Linked DNA regions of Homo sapiens. The protein of the gene in region 2 purifies or fractionates together with the protein of the main gene of each other region. This does not show direct contact. Each region holds a gene or a part of one and is shown on either strand. Other genes may lie near its edges. The genes, in order: TUBA3C and GPN2.

The links.
Region 1: the proteins of GPN2 (region 2) and TUBA3C purify together in Homo sapiens (affinity purification with mass spectrometry, with the first as the bait; 3 studies listed by BioGRID). This does not show direct contact.

Annotation. Positions count from the first base shown.
Region 1 is NC_000013.11:19,178,825-19,186,372, forward strand, and holds the start of TUBA3C (tubulin alpha-3C chain), read right to left. Parts: upstream 3,001-7,548; 5' UTR 2,924-3,000; coding exon 2,921-2,923; intron 740-2,920; coding exon 517-739; intron 1-516. UniProt on the Homo sapiens protein: Tubulin is the major constituent of microtubules, a cylinder consisting of laterally associated linear protofilaments composed of alpha- and beta-tubulin heterodimers.
Region 2 is NC_000001.11:26,887,278-26,899,743, forward strand, and holds the start of GPN2 (GPN-loop GTPase 2), read right to left. Parts: upstream 3,007-12,466; 5' UTR 2,820-3,006; coding exon 2,409-2,819; intron 1,849-2,408; coding exon 1,692-1,848; intron 1-1,691. Other genes in the region: GPATCH3 (G patch domain-containing protein 3), read right to left, coding at 3,733-3,949, 5,134-5,261, 5,393-5,514, 6,112-6,171, 6,959-7,133, 10,024-10,448. UniProt on the Homo sapiens protein: Small GTPase required for proper localization of RNA polymerase II and III (RNAPII and RNAPIII). May act at an RNAP assembly step prior to nuclear import.

The DNA.
Region 1 (7,548 bases), on a different chromosome or scaffold from region 2:
GCCTGGGCCCCACAGGCTTTCAGGTGACACTGTCATCTCATGTGGGGCCACTGAAAGGGGCTGTCTCTTTGCAGCTCTCCTTGGAAACTATCCTGGGCTTCTAATCTGGAGGAAGCAAATGACTGTTCTGTACTTAACCTTCTATGCCTAAGATGCAGGTCAAGACTCTCTTGCACCAGCATAAGAGTACACAGCATTCAGGAGGAAACCAATGCCATTGTGCCCTGCAGGCAGGGCCACCTGAACAGGGCTGAGGCAGCCACGACGGAATCTCTCCACAGCCCATCTTACTGTTGGCAAAGCAGCTTTTCCCTGTAGGCCAGGTTTTCCTAACTTAGGAGCCGAATCTCACAGACACTTTAATCACGAACCTTTCAGTTTCTGTTAACACCATGGGAATATGCTTGTCTATCTCATACCTTCTGCAGGAGGATTCAAAGGAGCCCACATGGGGCCTTACCGACGATGCTCTCCCACCCTCCTAAGAAAGCTGCCATCCAGGACCCGAGCACCTACCGACCACAGTGGGCTCCAGGTCCACAAACACTGCTCTGGGCACGTGCTTGCCAGCTCCAGTCTCACTGAAGAACGTGTTGAAGGAGTCGTCCCCACCACCAATGGTTTTATCACTTGGCATCTGACCATCGGGCTGAATTCCATGTTCCAGGCAGTACAGTTCCCAGCAGGCATTGCCGATCTGGACTCCTGCCTGCCCCACGTGGATAGAGATACACTCACGCTGTGAACCAGAACATAAATGTAGACCCATTCATTTCAAGGCAACTTGAAGCTATATGGTATGCAAAATATTATAATTTAATATTTATATACTGCTTCAGTATCTGGTGCTTTCACAATTGATATTTCCTAGGAGGGTTAGGTGACTGACCCCTTTATCCCTGTGAAAACTTACTTGCTCTACACCATCCCAGCTGCTAAGTTCCAGAGGTAGCCCTAGAACCTAATGTTTGCCACTACACAAAAATTAGATTATTTTAAAACTTGGAAGCCATGTAATGTCAGTAATCAAACCCACATTATAGCCAGTCACAGTAATTCTCTGAAGAATACATAGCAGTTTTTGATTATGTCCTACCAAAGGATAAGGTAATGGGGTTGGGTAAGGAAATAGAGAGTAGGTCCCAGGTCACTGTGGTCCAAGCCCAGGTGTTCAGTATGTGTCCTCTCTCTGCACCCCCAGATCTACCCTCCATCATTCACCACCCGCCCTGTGCTCTCCGAGGCTGACCCATGAGGACAGCATCAGAGGCCTTCCTTGCTCTCTGGCTTCGTGCTGGTTTGTTCAATGACAGGCAGCCGCAGGAGACCAGGAGGCTGGAGGAGAGTGGCGTCAGGGTACTCTCCCCTTGGCCCCTTCCTGCTCACCTTTCATGGGCGATACAAATCCCTCCATCAAGGCCACACTTTTGGCAGGTGGCCCTCTTCATAAAGTTACCCTCTCAATTTTTCGTAAGCACTCCCTCCCCTCTACCCCTTGAAGCCTAGGAGTGTAATGGCTCCCAGATGTCATCAGTGCTGGGACACTGCACTGTCCTTGGTGGTTTCTTTAAGCCCTGACAAGCCGGATGTGGTGGCTCATGCCTGTAATTCCAGCACTTTGGGAGGCTGAGCTGAGATCGCTTGGGACCAGTTTGAGACCAGCCTGGGCAACTATGAAAAAAAATTTTTTTTTTTTAAACAGAGTCTTGCTCTGTCACCCAGGCTGGAATGCAGTGGCACAATCTCAGCTCACTGCAGCCTCTGCCTCCCGGGTTCAAGCAATTCTCCTGCCTCAGTCTCCCACGTAGCTGGGACTACAGGCCACTATGCCCAACTAATTTTTTGTATTTTTAGTAGAGATGGGGTTTCACCGTGTTAGCCAGGATGGTCTCGATCTCCTGACCTTTTGATATGCCCGCCTTGGCCTCCCAAAGTGCTGGGATTACAGGCGTGAGCCACAGCGCCCGGCCGAAAAATTTAAACATTAGCCAGCTGTGGCAGCACACACCTGTAGTCCCAGCTACTCAGGAGGCTGAGGCAGGAGGATTGCTGGAGCCCAGGGGTTCAAGGCTGCAGGGAGCCGTGATCGTGCAACTGTGCTCCAGCCTGGGCAACAGAGCTGTTGTTGAGCCGTTTCAAAAAAAAAAAAAAAAAGATACTTGACAAACCACGGCCACTGCTATTCAGACTTGGGACTTAGAAATCTATTCTTTATGTGAATGCGTTGGTTGCTTTTTTTTTTTTTTGAGGCAGGGTCTCTCTCTGTCGCACAAGCTGGAGTGCAGTGGCACCATCATGACTCACTGCGGCCTCGAAGTCCTGGGCTCAGCTGACCCTCCCACCTCAGCCTCCCGAGTAGCTGGAACCACAGATCCACGCCTCCACCCCGGGAATTTTTCTATTTTTAGTAGAGAAGGGATTTCGCCATATTGGCCAGGCTAGTGAGGAGCCCCTGACCTCAGGGGATTCCCCGCCTCCAACTCCCGTCTGAGCTTTAATTCCTGATCTGACCAATGTCCACAGCCCTTGCCTCCATCAACAAGGCTCCTGGGGCTCCTCAGTGGTTTCCAATAGGACAGAGACATTTGGAGACCGGAAAGCGGGAGCAGCGCCCTTCTGTCTTCAGGAGGCGGCACCACTGTTTGCTCTCTGGGGGACAGGACACGGTCAATGCTCCCCGTCCACTGACTCAAGGCCGGCAGCTTCGTCTAAAACAAAAGCTGCCATCCCTGCCCTGGAGCCCGCAGACCCAGCAGACGATGCCGTGTCCTCGTGTCCCGCCCTGGGCCCCGCATCCTTCTCTGACCTCCTTTCTGCACCCTGGCCCGCAACAGCATCCCTCCATCCAGCCACCTCAGGAGGCCAACTTCGTCCACCCTCCAGCCTGGGCGTCTGCGGGGTGGGAGTGACCTGGCCTTACCATGTTGAGCTCCTCCGCTGCCGCAGCCCAACGCTACTACTTGACCTCAACCGCCGCTGCAGCTGCGCACGCCCAACGACAGCCTCCCGCCGTGCGCTGTCTGGGATTGGCCTGCTGGTGCCAGGCCACCATTGGTCCGGACGTCCTGGGAGGCGGGCCAAGGCTCGGATCCTAGTTTTGATTGGCCGTTGTGCAAACCACGTAGTGGGGACGCCCTCTGATTGGATGCAGGATTGGCGGGAAGGCAGCAGGCTCAGAGAGGGCCCTCTGACTGGATGCAGGACTGGCGGGAAGGCAGTGGGGTCAGAGGGCAGTGCGTGGGCTGAGACGTTTCCGGGGGTCCTCTGACCGGGGATGGAGCAGCTACTGCGTCTTTATAGGTGGAGGAACATTGCTTTGTAAGTAAGCTCCCAGCCTTGCAGTGGCTTGACCACGAACTTGTGCCGCTGCCTCCTCCCCAGTTGCCCCAGACCGGTTCCTCTGGAGGTGCCTTATTCAGATCTTTGCAAACATGGCCGCCTTTGAGAGGCCTTCACGGCATCTACCCAAGTCACAGCAGCACAGCAATCACCCCACCTTCCCACCCAGCACCCGGGAAGTGGCGGGATTCGATCACTTTTGTGATCTGAAAGGAAAAAGTGAGTGGGTTTCTGTGGCTCACGTCTGTAATCCCATCACTTCGGAGGCAGAGGCGGGCAGATCACCTGAAGTCAGGAGTTGGAGACCAACCTGGCCAACATGGTGAAATCCCGTCTCTACTAAAAATACAAAAACTATCCGGGTATGGTGGGCGTGCCTGTAATCCCAGCTACTCGGGAGGCTGAGGCTGGGGAATTGCTTGAACCCGGGAGGCAGAGGTTGCAGTTAGCCGAGATCGCACTGCAGCCTGGGCGAGACTCCGTCTTAAAAAAAAAAAGAAAAGAAAAGAAAAGAAGAAGCAGAGGTAAAATTAATATAGGTGGAGAGGTTGGGCTGGGCGCAGTGCCTCAGGCCTGTAATTCCAGTGCTTTGGGAGGCCTCCGCCGGAGGATTGCTTGAGGTCAGGAGTTTGCAACCAGCCTGGGCAACGTGGTGAGACCCGTCCTGCCCCCGTTTCTACAAAAAATAAAAAATGAATAAAATTAGCCGGACATGGTGATGGGTGCCTGTAATCCCAGCTACTCGGGAGGCTGAGGCACAAGAATCGCTTGAATCCGGGAGGTGGAGGTTGCAGTGAGCCGAGATTGTGCCACTGCACTCCAGCCTGGGTGACAGAGGGAGATTCCGTCTCACAAAAAATAAAAAACTAAAAAAAAATACAGTTTATTTGGGCCAAGTTTGCGAACTGCAACCTTGGAGATGCAAGTTGCCTTAATATACACTCTAATTAGCAGCAGTTACAAATGGGTTTTTAAAGGAAAAGAAGGGGCAGTTTCTAAATTGTTTACCAAGAATTTTACAAATAGAGACAGAGTCTTGCTGTGTTGCCCAGCCTGGTCTTGAACTCCTGGCCGGAAGGGAGCCTCCCACCTTGGCTGGCCTGGCCAGAGGAATGTATATTAAAATAACATAAGCTATTTATTGGCTCTATATTGTCTTTTGTATCACAAATTCTAGTAACAGGAAGATAAAGCTAGTCAGGAACAAAATGCCTTTACACAGCTGCTGGGGCATGGGTATGAGGTGTGTGACTGAAGTCCCATATTCCTGTCTCTCTGGGCCTGATACATTCTGCACACCTCGCATAACTCAAAGTGCTTTGAACACTTTTTCTTTTCTCTCTCCTTTAGTGAGAGGGACTGGGTTTATGGCCACCAGGAAAGGGGAAGGCACAGCCCTGTCCTGGGAAGAGCAGAGTAGGGACACAATGCCCATTTTGGAGGAGTCTGGAACAGTCACCTGATTCTTATTTATTTATTGCTTATTTATTTATTTTTTGGACACTGGTTCTCACCATGTTGACCAGGCTGGACTCAAAACCCCTGGGCTCAAGTGATCCTTATGCCTCAGGCTTCCTTGTAGGCTGGGACTACAGGCGTGTAATTCTTCCCAGTTTGATTCTTCCATTTCTAAAGATCATCTTAACAGTGTATATTCAGTTCTGAGAAAAGGCCTGGAGGAGACGTGCTGGCTTACCCCCAGCTCATCACCAGGATGCAGCACCCTATCATGGCATCTCCCTAGAGGGTGGCCAAGCAGGCTCTTAACTTTCCCTCCTGAGAGGAGAGCAGAGAAGAGAGAGGGAGCTCCCCCAGTGGGATGGGACTCACGAGGTCCAGGAGTTGAGACTTTTCTGTGGGCTTTGGGGACCTCTGAACAGTGCAATCAGGTCTGCCCTTAGAAGGATGTTTTGGCACAAAGAGGAGGAGCAGGGAGGGAGATCTGTGGAGAGCCAGGGAAACCAGAGGAGGCCTCTTGCCTCCTGCCTCTTCTCCCCAGAAGGGTGAATCCTTCCATCTTAGTCGGCTCCGGCTGCCCTAAAAAAATACCATCGACTGAGTAGCTTAAACAACAGAGTTTTATTTTCTCACAGTTCTGGAGGCTAAAAGTCCCAGAGGCCTCTTGTCCTGGCTGGCACACAGCCACCTTCTTACCATGTCCTCCCACAGGGTGGGGGAAGGCAGCACTCAAGCTCCCTGGTCTCTTATAAGGACACGAATCCTACTGGATCAGGGCCCACCCTTATGACCTCACATAATCATCATCATTTCCTTATAGGCCCCATCCCCAAATACAGTCACATTGGGGATCGGAGCTTCAGTGTCTAATAATGGGGGGACACAGTTCAGTCCACAGCCCTCCCCTTCCTCAGGGCTCCAACCACATCATGCACAGAACTCAGCTGTAGCCCATGTCACCCCATGCTCTTCAGTACAGTCATGCGTCCCTCAGAGGCTGGGATACGCTCTCAGAAAGCCATCATCAGGCAATTTCGTTGACGTGAGAACATCATAGAGTGTACTTAGACCAACCTACATGGAGCAGCCTACTGCCCACCTAGGCCACATGGTACAGCATATTGCCCCTCAGCTACAGACCTGTACAGTAAGGATTTGTGTATCTAAACATAGAAAAGCTACATGAAAAATAATGGTATTATAATCTTATGGGGCCACTGTTGTATATGCTGTCTGCTGTTGTCCAAAACATCATTATGTGCCACATGACTGCAATATTTATTTTTCTGATTATAAAAGTAACACATATTCCCAGTAGAGAGTGTGGAAAATTAGGAACAAAATATTTACTCTACTGTAAATAACAAAATAAAAATTGAGTCTTGGACGTGCCCATTTTTACTGTAAGTTATGATTCCATAACTGACTTGTAGTAAACAGTATTTCTGGCCCGTAAGTATTGCTGCTTTGTGTATTTTATTTAGTATACAGTACTAAAAAAAAAGTGTTGTCAATTATTAAATCCTTGCAGTAAGCCAGCTAACAAAGTTTACATATAGTCACTACACAGAAAGGAGCACAAATTATTTCCTCTTTTGCTCAGATTCAAACAGGCTTGAGTGACAACTTGAGGACAAGGACACTTTGCCAAGATTTTACGCAGCGGCTGGCAGGGCCAGAGAGGCAGCATGGTGTGGCAGGAGAATGAGGACCTGCGCAAGGTAGGTGGCTCAGTTCTGGGTGAGAAAGGCTTACGAGACTTTGCAGTTTTGTAAGGTTGAGTTCATACAGATGTTTAAAGACCTTCTTGGGACTCCTACTCATGGACTGTCCCTGCTGCATGCAGGACACCAGGGCCAAGCCTGGATCTAGGGACCAGCCGGGTGCTGCATAGCTCGTGTCAGCTGGCTGAGCTTGGCTCCCAGTCATGGCTGCCTACTAGCACCTTGCCTGCAGCAGGCACCCACTTCGCAGTCATCTGCCATCTCCAGTTCAACCCCACAAAGTAAGCAGCAACTCCCCCACCCCTGCCAATTTTGAATGAGGAACTATGTCTGTGTTATCTGCAGTGATACGCTGGGCCTGACACCAGTGACTCCCCCTTCTCTCTCCACCATGTGATGACAGGGAGCTGCAAAAAAGACCATTTGTTAAAATGTGGGTAATTCCCCCATAACTTCTTCATAAATTTGGTTTTTAGTAAGATGTGTGAAACTTTATGTTCAAATGCCAGTATAGTAGTAATAACACAAGTAGGTTCTGTTTTCTAAAATACATTCATTTATACACTTAAGTCCTTGGACCTATAGTTTGTGGTCTGTCCTCTAAAATGTGCCAGATTGTAAACCCAAATTGCTACTTAAGATCATCTGTGGTGTGATTCCCCTGCATGACTTGTCTGGGACTGCAGTGTGGTCTGGGTGCTGTCTCATTGCTTAATGTAGTCACAATAACTCTGAGCCGGGCAGAGAGGCCTGGGGAGGCCTTTCCTCCCCATGCGGGAGCTGCCCTGCCAGCTTGCTCCACCTCTCCTCACTTCCAGTCACAGTCCAGCAGGTGTGACAGCGACTAAACAACCACATTGTTGACCAGATTGGCTGTGGGGAGGTCAGGGTCATCAGTGCAGCAAGTGGTAAGGTTGGGTTGTCAGTACAGCTGACCTCACGGTAAGTCCAACTGTGGCTCTCCACCCAGGGAGACTTTGATTTAAATCTTTTTCTTCTTAATTTTCTTTTCTTTTCTTTGTTTTCT
Region 2 (12,466 bases):
CACTAAAAGAAGTAAGTTGGACTTCCCCCTAGTGGCCTGTTTCTGCCCAGAAAACTTAAGTATCTGGGCTCCCTGGCAGCTCTATCCTAAAGTAAGCTGAGGACTCTACATCACTCCATGTCCAGACTAGAAGCTAACTGGCCTCCCTGGACAAGGTCCCGACACCTCCCTTTCCCAACAACCTCCCTATTGCTCATGTGCTGGTCATTTTATCTGTCTTCTCTAGGTTCCTTTGTTGCTAGAGATGCTATTTAGGGAACAATGTCCCCAGTTCAGGAGAGTACTAATTTTTTTTTTTTTTTGAGACAGAGTCTTGCTCTGTCGCCCAGGCTGGAGTGCACTGGCATGATCTCGGCTCACTGCAAACTCCCTCTCCTGGGTTCACGCCATTCTCCTGCCTCAGCCTCCTGAGTAGCTGGGACTACAGGTGCCCGCCACCATGCCCAGCTAATTTTTTGTATTTTTAGTAGAGACGGAGTTTCACAGTGTTAGCCAGGATGTTCTCAAGCTCCTGACCTCGTGATCCACCTGCCTCGGCCTCCCAAAGTGCTGGGATTACAGGCGTGAGCCACTGCGCCTGGCCTAATTTTTTTTTTTTGAGACGGAGTTTCACTCTTATTGCCCAGGCTGGAGTGCAATGGCGAGATCTCGGCTCACTACAACCTCCGCCTTCCAGGTTCAAGCGATTCTCCTGCCTCAGCCTCCCGAGTAGCTGGGATTACAGGCATGCACCACCATGCCTGGCTACTTTTTTGTATTTTTAGTAGAGATGTGGTTTCTCCATGTTGGTCAAGCTGGTCTCGAACTCCTGACCTCAGGTGATCTGCCCACCTCGGCCTCCCAAAGTGCTGGGATTACAGGCGTGAGCCACCACGCCCAGCCGAGAGTACTAATTTATCAAGAAAAAAAAGCTGGCCACTGGGACTCTAGCCAACTCCCCTGCCTCATACCAGCCTGCTTCTACCTCAATCTTCCCTATTTTGTCCCTGGCCTCCCACCCCTTCTCTGTCTCTGTGCCAGGTGAGAATATAGCCTCCTTCTGTGAGGACAGAAGGAGGCTGTCTAGGAGCCAGGAAGCAGACTCTCACCAGACACCAGATCGGCTTGTGTCTTGATCTTGGACTTACCAGCCTCCAGAACTGTGAGAAATAAATATTTATTGGCTAAGCCATCTGGTCTATGGTATTTTTGTGATGGCAGCACAAACTGACTAAGACAAGGCCTTTATTCCTACTAGTGCCTCTGCATAGAACAGTCCTCCCTTGGCTGGCTCCTTCTCACCATTCATGTCTCAGCTCAGATGCCACTGCTTCAGAGCAGAAGTGAGAAACTGAGGTCCAGAGAGATGAACTGACTTACCCAGACCACACGATGATTCAGTGGCAGATCCAGAATTTAAACTCATGCCTGTTTTACTCCAAAGCTCACTCACTTCACTCCCAAATATTCACTGTCGTATCACTTTAATTCCTTTGTAACACCTAACACCATCTGTAGCTCTCTTGTCTCCAAAATCTACAACGGTAACTAGCACAGAGTGGCACAAAATAAATGGGCAGGAGTTAGAACCTGCCTGTGGCTACTATCACCAGACCACGCAAGGCACCAGAGGCAGCTACCTTCAGCTGAGATGTCTGCTTCATTCTAGCCCAGCTGCTGCCCTGCTCTTCGCCTGGAACAGAAGCTCTTACCCAGCTTCCCATAATGCTCAATGAGGTCCATCTTGGAAAGGAGGTTGATGTGGGGCAGTTCCACGTGCAGCATGGTGGCCAGGGAGGTACACAGTACTGAAATGAACTTGGCAGGGTCTGTGCAGTAGTGAGAATCCACGAGGTGGACGGCAGTCAGCTGGGAGGGAATAGACAGGGTGAGAGTGGCCTGGAGAAACAGGGATCAGCATTCCCTCATGAGAATGAGGGCTTGAGGACAGAGGGGAAGCTTTCCCCATTAGTCTCCTGCCTCTGTTTCTTTCTAATAACCACCCTGGTTTCCTTCTCCCAGGAAATAGGAGTCATTTTTTTTTTCTTACAAGAGGTCTTGCACTGAGCCTCCCAGTGGGCAAGGGGTTTAAATCCCATGGCATCTGACTCCACTCTTTCATTTACTTTTGCCCACCAATTTACAACAATCTCCATGCCACTTTCGACATTAACCCCTTCCATACTTCCAAAATCGCCAAGTTGGCTACTAACACATTTTACACGTGAGGAAACTGAGGTTCAGAGTGATGAACTGACTTATCAACACCACACAGCCAGTCAGTAGCAGAGCCAGATTCTGAACTCATGCCTGTTTTACTCCAAAGCGACCCAGCCCCTACCTCCCTGTGTGACATGGGGGCGTGGCGTCTGTCCTCCCTGTCTCAGTTACTCCATCCGCAAAATGGGCCTCCCCGCCCTGAGACGCACCCTGAGGTCCCACTGCGCCATTTGGGAGAAGATGCTGCGCAAGGCGCCGTGATGCGTGCAGAGCTCCACCTGGCCTGGGCAGTCGAAGAGGAAGTAGTGGCCGCGGAGGGGGTCGAGCTTGGCACGCAGCCAGTCCAGGTTGGCTTCCAGGTACTCCATGCAGTAGAGCAGGCCGCCGTTGGGCCCCAGGCGCAGCGCGTCCATCACGTCGCCCAGCCCCACCAGCTCGCCCACGTCCACGGCACACTCGTACGGCAGCCCCTCGTTGGCCGGGTCCAGGTTCACCACCGCCACGCGCCGGCCCAGCGCGCGCAGGAACTCACTCATGCCCAGGCAGTACGTGGTCTTCCCTGAGCCCGGCGGGCCGATCACCGCCTGCCCGAAGGCCGTGGTCGGAGCGGCCCCTGCCATTGGCGGCCCGCGGCCCGGAGCAGGTCAACTCACAGGGAAAACGGGGCAGGTAGCCGCGCCGGAGACGAGACTGAGGGCGAGGGTCCCAGTACGTATACCTCGTTGGCGGCCAGCGTCACTCGCCTCAGGCGGAACAGCTGAGACCGTGTCGCGCAAAAGGAGATAACAGGCCGATACTAACTAGACTAACTCGACTTCCGGACAGCGTCGGAAACGGCGAGCCAACGAGAGGAAGTCCCGCCCTCACGGCGGGGACGAAGCTAGACGCCGAGGGGCGGGCGGCGCAGCCGCATTTCTCTCGCGGGTAGTGGGTCGAATGTGGGGTCTTTGCGGGAAAATCGCTCTCGGAATTTCTCTAACCTTCAGACTCGAATTAGAAAAGTAAGGGAGCTCCAGTAGTAAACGTCTTTATTCTTCCGTGACGTCGCACACCCAAGCCACCTCCCGCGGACTCTCCGCTGGCAGTCCCACCCAGTGAGGGTAGAGGCGGTGGAGGGCCCACCCAAGGCCGGCTCTTCCAAGCACCACAAATCCTCTCCTCGCCCAGGTCCCTTTCCCCCTTTCTGGCCTTCGTGGGGACACCTTCAGAGTCCCCAAGGAAGGCTGTGCTGATAGCCTCACTCAACCCAGCTTTTCAAAGTTCTGCAGGAGGCAAAGGGCAAGCCCAGAGATTAGGGTTAGAGACCAAAGACAAGCGGTCGTTACCCCTAATATCCAAGGGGAGGGGACGGGAGGGGGCTTTTTGTAAAAATGCCCCTGAGGTATAGAACCGGCAGGCAGGCAGGCTCGGAACAAAACACCCTGAACCAGCCACGAAGACTGCTGCTCCCAGACTCCTTTCTGCTTCAGTGGTAGATGAGGCCAGGGCAGAGGGTTTTCATCATGTAGCTATGAAAGGAAGCCCCCAACCCGGTCAGTCAGGCAATGAGGGGCTGTCTGAAGCACAACTGGAACCCCTCACAAAGGCCATGTCTGTCCGAAACTTCATGCTGGTGGGTGGCTGGCGGCGGAGCAGTGACTCCGTCTGGTCTTGGGGTAGAGGCTCATCATAGATGGTGGAGATGAGCCCCAAGCCATTTCTACGGGGCCTCTTCAGTTGCCCAAATGGCTGTAGCTTCTCTCCATGGTACCTGGATAAAAACGGGCTCTCAGTGAGAAGGCTGCTCTCAAACTCCAGTTAAAGGGGTTGGGAGAGGACGGGGAAGTAGTTACTACATATCTGGTTTGTCCAAAGACAGAGGCTTTAAATCTGGGTCTTTGTTCTCCAGCCCTCTTATCTATCCATTGACAGTGCCAGCAAGAAGGGGCCTCATATAAAATTTTCATTCTGTCACTACAGACTTCCTAATAGTAACCATCAAGTCCAAACTCCTCCAACAAAGGGTATGAATGATCTTGTTAAGCCTTAGGGCTTACTCTTTAAAAAAAAAAAAAAAGTCAGATTTACTTTATTTATTTATTTATTTCTGAGATGGGGTCTCACTATGTCACCCAGGCTGGATTGTAATGGCGTGATCTCGGCTCACTGCAACCTCCACCTCCTGGGTTCAAGCGATTCTCCTGCCTCAGCCTCCAGAGTAGCTGGGACTACAGGCGCATGCCACCATGCCCAGCTAATTTTTTTTTTTTGTGACAGAGTCTTGCTCTGTCACCCAGGCTAGAGTGCAGTGGCGCCATCTTGGCTCACTGCAACCTCTGCCTCCTGGGTTCAAGCGATTTTCCTGCCTCAGCCTCCTGAGTAGCTGGGATTACAGGCACCCACTACCGTGCCCAGCTAATTTTTTGTATTTTTAGTAGACACAGGGTTTCACCATCTTGATCAGGCTGGTCTGAAACTCCTGACCTCGTGATCCACCCGCCTCAGCCTCCCAAAGTGCTAGGATTACAGGCATGAGCCACTGCGCCCGGCTAATTTTTGTATTTTTAGTAGAGACGGGGATTTCACCATGTTGGCCAGGCTGGTCTCTAACTCCTGACCTCAAATGATCTGCCCACCTGGGCCTCCCAAAGTGTTGGGATTACAGGCGTGAGCTACCACGCCCGGACTTTTTATTTTTCTAACAGAGACAGTCTCATATGTTGCCCGGCTGGTTTCAAACTGGGCTCAAGGAATCCTACCACTTCAGCCTCCCAAAGCGCTAGGATTACAGGCTTGAGCCACCGTGCCTGGCCCAGATCCACTTTTTCCTCTTAACTGTTTTGAATTTCATCCCGCACGAGTACCCAGCAGCCATGCCAAAACCAGTGGGAAGAGGGAAACCAGGGCATAGCTGAAAGGCTTGGGCCCCCAGGGAAGTCCCTCAGTCACACTTACCCCAATCCACGCTTGCATCTGGGGTGTTGGCCATCACTATCCAGGGCCTCAGGCACCCCTGAGCACCTGCAGCCCAGGCCCTGGCCCTCAGCCCAGCCCTGCCGCTCCATCACCTTCCGCCCAATGCCCTGCAGAGTGAAGGGACAAGACTCAAGAAATGGGGCTCCTGCTGGGAGCAGGGAGAATGGGGATGGGAGAAGGAATTAAAGTAGAGAAGGAAAAGAGAGGGGTCCATGGGGTGGGCACAGTGCTAACTCACCTTGGTGTGGCGCTCAAAGGTGCCCACCTGGCGTTCGATCACAGAGCCATCTTCCTGTCCATCTCGGAGTCTCTGTTCCAGACGCATTTGGACAGAGTCTCGGGCATCCTTGTCTCCACCATCTGAGGAAACAGAGCTCAGTTTATGGAAGCGTCCCTCTCAAAGAAGGGGGAAGAATCAGGTTTCTAGGACCCCCTCGTAAGATTGACTTATTCATTTTAATAGTGTTCTGTATCTCTCTCATTAGACTGGGAGCTCCCCAAAAGTAGGAACCATGGCTCTCCCCAATCATACAGATGAGAAGATTGTGGTGCAGAAAAGTAACAGAGCCAACAAATGACAGAGAGAGGATTAGAACCCAGGTCTTCCCTCCCCTACTTGGCTATTTCCCCCACCCGGGTCATTTCCTCTTCTAAAATCTAAACCCTTACTAGAGCCTGAGCTTCTGACCAGCCCACCCTACCAGGGCCTGACCATCAGACCTAGAGCCCCTAAGGGCTATCTATCCCTCCTCCTCCTCCAAGAAAGGATGAAGGCTCTGTCCAAAACTAGCACTTAATGTACACAACCAAAGATGTTTTAAGAGGAACCCTCTCAGTGGGCTACCCCAAGGGAACGGGAACGGTACCCTGTCTCAGCCTTTGCTAGCTCTGGTAAAGTGTCACTGCAAGGCCAGGGCACCTGTTTCACCTCCAGTATTGCCACTCCTTGCCCAGTACCTCTGTCATAGTACACACTCATGTCCACATCCCAGTCATCGGCTGTCTGTTCATCAAAATCTGTAGGGACAGAAAAGCATCCAACAGAGTACATTAAGGACTCTCAGTTCTATTAAGAGTTAAACCTAGAGTTTTTTTGGCTTTTTTTTTTTTTTTTTTTTTGAGACAGAATCTCATTCTGGAGTGCAGTGGCATGACCTTGGCTCACTCCAACCTCTGCCTCCCGGGTTCAAGTGATTCTCCTGCCTCAGCCTCCCAAGTAGCTGGGACTACAGGTGCATGCCACCATACCCAGCTAATTTTTGTATTTTTCATAGAGACGAGGTTTCACCATGTTGGCCAGGACGGTCTCGATCTCTTGACCTCGTGATCTGCCCACCTCAGCCTCCCAAAGTGCTGGGATTACAGGCGTGAGCCACTGCACCCAGCGGGGCATTTGTTTGTTTTAGAGAAGGTCTCACTCTGTCCCCCAGGCTGGAGTAAAGTGGTGGAATCATAGCTCACTGCAACCTTGAACTCCTGGGCTCAAGTGATCCTCCTGCCTCAGTCTCTTAAGTAGTTCGGACTACAGGCATGAGCCATTGCACCCAGCTTGTTTGTATTTTAAGATCCTTCCTCTGGGAGGGTTATTCAGAATTTGTTGGGGGCGGGGCGGGGGGCATTTTCTCTCCATCTCACTGATCCCCACTCTTAAAAAGGATGATTGGTCTCTCGTATACAATAGAGGTCAGCCTGTTCCCTAGCCTTTTGTTTGGGCTCACCACTACAGAATCTACCGTGTGGAACAGGGAACCCCAAAAGAATGCAGCAGGGGTCACCCCTGCCTTTGCCTGGGTACCAGCATTACCTCCTTCTTCCTCCTGCCAGAACTGGGCATCAGTATAAAACACCAGGCCAGAGCCACCCTTCTCCCACTTGAGCTCAATCTCCTCCTCAAAGAGCTGCTCAGTGGTCCGCTCCTGCCCGGTCACGTCCTCATGCAGCGCTTCATGCCGTTCCCATTCCTCACCCCGGTCATCGTCCTAAAAGGCAGGGAGAGGTGATTTGCCTGAGCTTCCTGACCTCATGCCCCGAGGGAGGGAAGCTCAGGGCACAGGAGGCATGTGTGGCTAGCCTCAGCGCCATTCCTTCAGATTTCTCCAAGAAGCAGCACATATTTGGCCCCTGACCAACACGTCTCCAGCCCGATAATTCTCAACAGTTTGCTCCTGTCCCCACAAGCCTGACTCACCTCTGCGCGTTTGGCCATGTTGTTCCCTGCCTGAAATACCCACTTTCCTCTCCCACACCCTTCTCTTCTCCACTTGATTAAATCCTCCTCATCCCTCAAGTCATACAGCCTACATGAAGCCCCCCACATTTAGGCCCACAGCTCTCATACCAGTCTCTGAACTCCCAATGCTAATCAGTACACACTGGTTAGGCCTTTTTATGTCATATCACAAAGAAAGAATGGACAATAATGCTTATTGTCTCTGGTGTGTCAGGCCCTTCCCATAGCTTAGCTCCTTTAACCACTGCAACAACCCTATGAGATAAGTACCATTATTCCCATTCTACAGATGACAAAACCTAGGTTCAGGGGAGTAAAAAGTTCTTTGTCCAAAAGAGTACACTGAGGGAGCAGCAGAGCCAGCAATGCAAACCCGGGTGGCCACATCCAGGTGCAGCATCTCCAGATGCTGGTTCTTTCTCTTCAGGGAGATTTTAGGCTCTTTGAGGGCAGGAAATGGGTCTTAGAATGCCTTTGGAATCCTACACTAGCCCTTGGCTTGACGGGACTTGTGGAATGATACAATGACTCCTAGCTTGAAACCCTGTAGGCCTTCAAGTGCTGAAGAAAAGTCAGGATGGGGCCAGACGCAGTGGCTCACGCCTGTAATCCCAGCACTTTGGGAGGCCAAGGTGGGAGGATCCCTTGAGCTCAGAGGTTCAAGACCAGTCTAGGCAACAAGTCAAAACCCTATCTCTACAAAAAATACAAAAATTAGCCAAGTGTGGTGATGTGTGAGTGTAGTCCTAGCTACTAGGGAAGCTGAGGTGAGGATGGCTTGAGCCCAGGGAGTTGGAGGTTGCAGTGAGCTGAGATTGCACTACTGCATTCCAGCCAGGACAATAGAACCAGAGCCTGCTTAAAAAAAAAAAAAAAAAAAAAGGAAAGGAAGGAAGGAAGGGGAGAGAAGAGGAGAGGGGAAGTCAGGATGGTACCACACTAGGGATGTGGTCCAGATGTCTTAGCAATCTTGGCTGGGAGCTTTTTTTTTTTTGAGACAGAGTCTCACTCTATCGCCCAGGCTGGAGTGCAGTGGTGCGATCTCAGCTCACTGCAACCTCCACCTCCTGGCTTCAAGTGATTCTCCTGCCTCAGCCTCCCAGTAGCTAGGACTACAGGCACCACGCCTGGCTAATTTTTGTATTTTTAGTAAAGGTGGGGTTTCACCATGTTGGCCAGGCTGGTCTCGAACTCCTGACCTCAAATGATCCACCCATCTTGGCCTCCCAAAGTGCTGGGATTACAGGTGTGAGCCACTGCACCCAGCTGGCTGGAAGCTTTGAAACATGGGTGAATTACTTTTTACCCGGAGTACACATTTTTAAAAAAGTTTTCCCAACAAATCACACCTTACTTGATTTTATGGATGTGCAACCAAGTTTGGAGAAAGGAACCAAAGAAATGTCTATGTCACTAATGAAGTGAGAGTGGAGGCTACTGTTCAATCTGCTGACTCTAGGTCAGAAAATAGAGATGACTGTTCAGCCACATTATGACAGCACGCACAGGTTAGAGAAGAAGCAAGAACTGGGTTCATATCCCAGCTCTACCTCTATTTCCTGAGATGATCTTAGACAAGTCACTGCACATGTTTTGGTCAGCACATTTTCATCTATGAAAATGAACTCTCCTTATCTGGTCTTTCATGTGGAATTTTTTTTTTTTTTCTCAGCTCACTGCAACCTCCGCCTCCTGGGTTCAAGAGCTTCTGTGCCCGGCTGGAAATAATTTTTAAAAAAGAAAAAATGGGCCTGGCGCAGTGGGTCATGCCTGTAATCCCAGCACTTTGGCAGGCCGAGGCAGGTGGGTCACGAGGTCAGGAAATTGAGACTATCCTGGTTAACACGGTGAAACCCTGTCTCTACTAAAAATAAAAAAAAAAAAAAAAATTAGCCGGGCGTGGTGGCACATGCCTGAAGTCCCAGCTTACTCGGGAGGCTGAGGCAGGAGAATCACTTAAACCCAGGAGGTGGAGGTTGCAGTGAGCCGAGATCGCACCACTTCACTCCAGCCTGGGTGACACAGTGAGACTCTGTCTCAAAAAAAAAAAGAAAAAAATGAATAAAGAGGAACCATCCTGGCCAGGCGCAGTGGCTCACGCCTATAATCCCAGCACTTTGGGAGACTGAGGCAGGCGGGTCACGAGGTCAGGAGATTGAGACCATCCTGGCTAACACAGTGAAACCCCGTCTCTACTAAAAATACAAAAAATTAGCCGGGTATGGTGGTGGCCGCCTGTAGTCCCAGCTACTTGGGAGGCTGAGGCAGGAGAATGGCGTGAACCCAGGAGGCAGAGCTTGCAGTGAGCCGAGATCGTGCCACTGCACTCCAGCCTGGACAACAGAGCAAGACTCCGTCTCAAAAAAAAAAAAAAAGGAACCATCCTTATATATCCCTTCCAAGGGAATGAAAAATAAGACCCACTTACGAATCTTCTGGTAAAAGCTCTGGACCATCTCCCTACAGAAATACAGAAACACACATGCAAATATAGTTTTACATTCCTTCTTGGACTCCTTGGAACCCTCCTGAGGACCCCAGGTTAAGAACCCTTGTAATAGACAATTGAAGAGTGGTATTATTAATGCCTTCGGCCTCTTTCAGCTGCCAGCAAGGACAGGGTAGCACACTGTACTCACCTCATCTGAGTGAGACTCTTCTTCCTCTTCCTTCCCCACTTCTTCCTCAGGCTCTCCACAGGGGCTGGCTGGTATATCTGCCAGGTAGGTTCCTTGGGGTATTTCTTCACCCTCTGCTGTATACACAAGCTCTTCCTGCTCCACAGTCTCTGAGTCCTCATACTCAAAAGGCACATTGCCGTAGCGCCGGGAGGAACCTGTCTTGGGGAACTGGAGCTGCAGCTGGGTGATGATCCGAGGGGGTAGGCGGCAGGCCCGGATCAACTCCAAAAAGACCCGCAGGGGAGTCCCCACATTCCCTCTGGGCATCAGCACTGGTGGGTTCAGCTCCGGCAGTTGCTTCAGGTCAGCCAGGGTGAAGGCTTCATTCTCTGCCTTCCAACTCTGCAGTTCCTTCCGGGTCTTGAAGGGAAAGGAGCCCAGACCTTGGAAAGGAGGGAGAATAGATCTTGAAACCCAGAAGCCTCCAGCAACACTTGAGCCAGAAATTGGCCAATGTTTAAATCTGTTAGCCTTTCCCTAGTAAACATCTAGTAAATCCCTAGTAAAAATCTAGGCCGACACAGTGGCTCACGCTTGTGATCCCAGCACTTTGGGAGGCTGAGGCAGGAGGATTGCTTGAGCTCAGGAGTTCAAGACCAGCCTGGGCAAAATGGTGAGACCCTTATCTCTACAAAATATAAAAAAATTAGCTGGGAGTGGTGGTGCACCCTGTGATCCCAGCTCCTTGGGAGGCTGAAGCAGGAGGATTGCTTGAGCCTGGGAGGTGAGGCTGTAGTGAGCCAAGATTGCACCACTGCACTTCATCTCGGGCGACAGAGTACCCTGTCTCAAAAATAAATAAATAAATAATAAAATAAATCCATTAGCCTCATGCTGTTCCTCCCTCTCAAACTTCTCCAGGTCTTTTCATCTCTCCCCAAGCGGAACTACAGAACTACCTAGTAGTTTCATGTCACTTCTCATCACCTTGGCTGGGCATACAAGTTTCTTCCAGCTCTGGCTCCTGATGAACTTTTTTTTTCTTTTTTTTGAGACAGATTCTCACTCTGTCACCCAGACTGGCGTATGCAGTGGTGCAATCTCAGCTCACCGCAACCTCCGCCTCCCGGGTTCAAGTGATTCTCATACTTCAGCTTCCCAAGTAGCTGGGATTACAGGCATGTGCCACCATGCCTGGCTGATTTTTGTATTTCTAGTACAGACAGGGTTACGCCATGTTGTCCAGGCTGGTCCTGGCCTCAAGTGATATCTACCCACCTGATGACCTTTTGATTCTCGGCTGTCACCAACTCCCACCTCCTGCATGTCTTCATACGATGTGTTCCAGCCACACCAAACAATTTTTCTCCTAATTTCTTTTTTTTCTTCTTTTTTTTTTTTTGAGATGGGGTCTCGTTCTGTCACCCAGGCTGGAGTACAGTGGCGCGATCTTGACTCATTGCAACCTCCACCTCCTGGGCTCAAGTGATCCCCCCACCTCAACCTCACAAGTAGCTGGGACTACAGGCATGCGCCACCACAACCGGCTAATTTGTATTTTTGGTAGAGACAGGGTTTCACCATGTTGCCCAGGCTGGTATGGAACTCCTGAGCTCAAGAGATCCACCCACCTGTGCCTCCCAAAGTGCTGGGATTACAGGCACGAGCCATTGCAACCCAGCCCACAATGAACAATTTAACATGCCCTGAAAGTTTTTCACGGGCTTTCAAAGCTGTGTCTTTGCAAACGCCATTTACCCTGAAACCCAGAAACACCATTCTCTCCTATTAACTCCTATTTATTTTTCAAGACCCAGATGGAAAGCCACATTTCATGATCCATCTAGGAAGTTAGTTTCTCCCTTCTCTGTCATCTCACAGCACTTGGTGATAAACAGTATAGGCTCTGGAACAGATGCCTAGGTTTGTTGTAGCTCTGACACTAACTAACTCTGTAACCTCAGGCAAGTCACATAACTTCGGCTTCCCTCAGTTTCTTCACCTATGAAATGGGAGAAACAACAGCTCCTATCTCATAGGACTGTTGAGAGGGGTAAGAAAACAAAAGGCTTAGAACAGCGCCTACTAAATACAGAGTGCTCAGTGAATGCTAACAATTAGAATGACATCTCTGTGGCAATAACCTTTTTCCAAATGTCTTCCTTTGTGGATTCTGAGCACACACTATGTCCAACTGTTCTCTGCATACCCAGCTAGTCACACTAGGTCTAGCAATGTAAGCATTTGTTGAATGTGTGAACTGGAGGGCTCTGCACTGTCCTGTTTCCCCATCAAACTGATTTCCCATGAAAGTGGGAGCTGTCCAGAGAAAAGATTGTCTCTTCATTTGTATCTTACTGAAAGGACTGGGTAGGAAGCACAGAGAGAGCAGGAGAGAAAGACAGTAAAAGGGTTAGAGACTGGATTTCCTTTTTTCTTTCTGTGTTAGTGCAAAATCAAC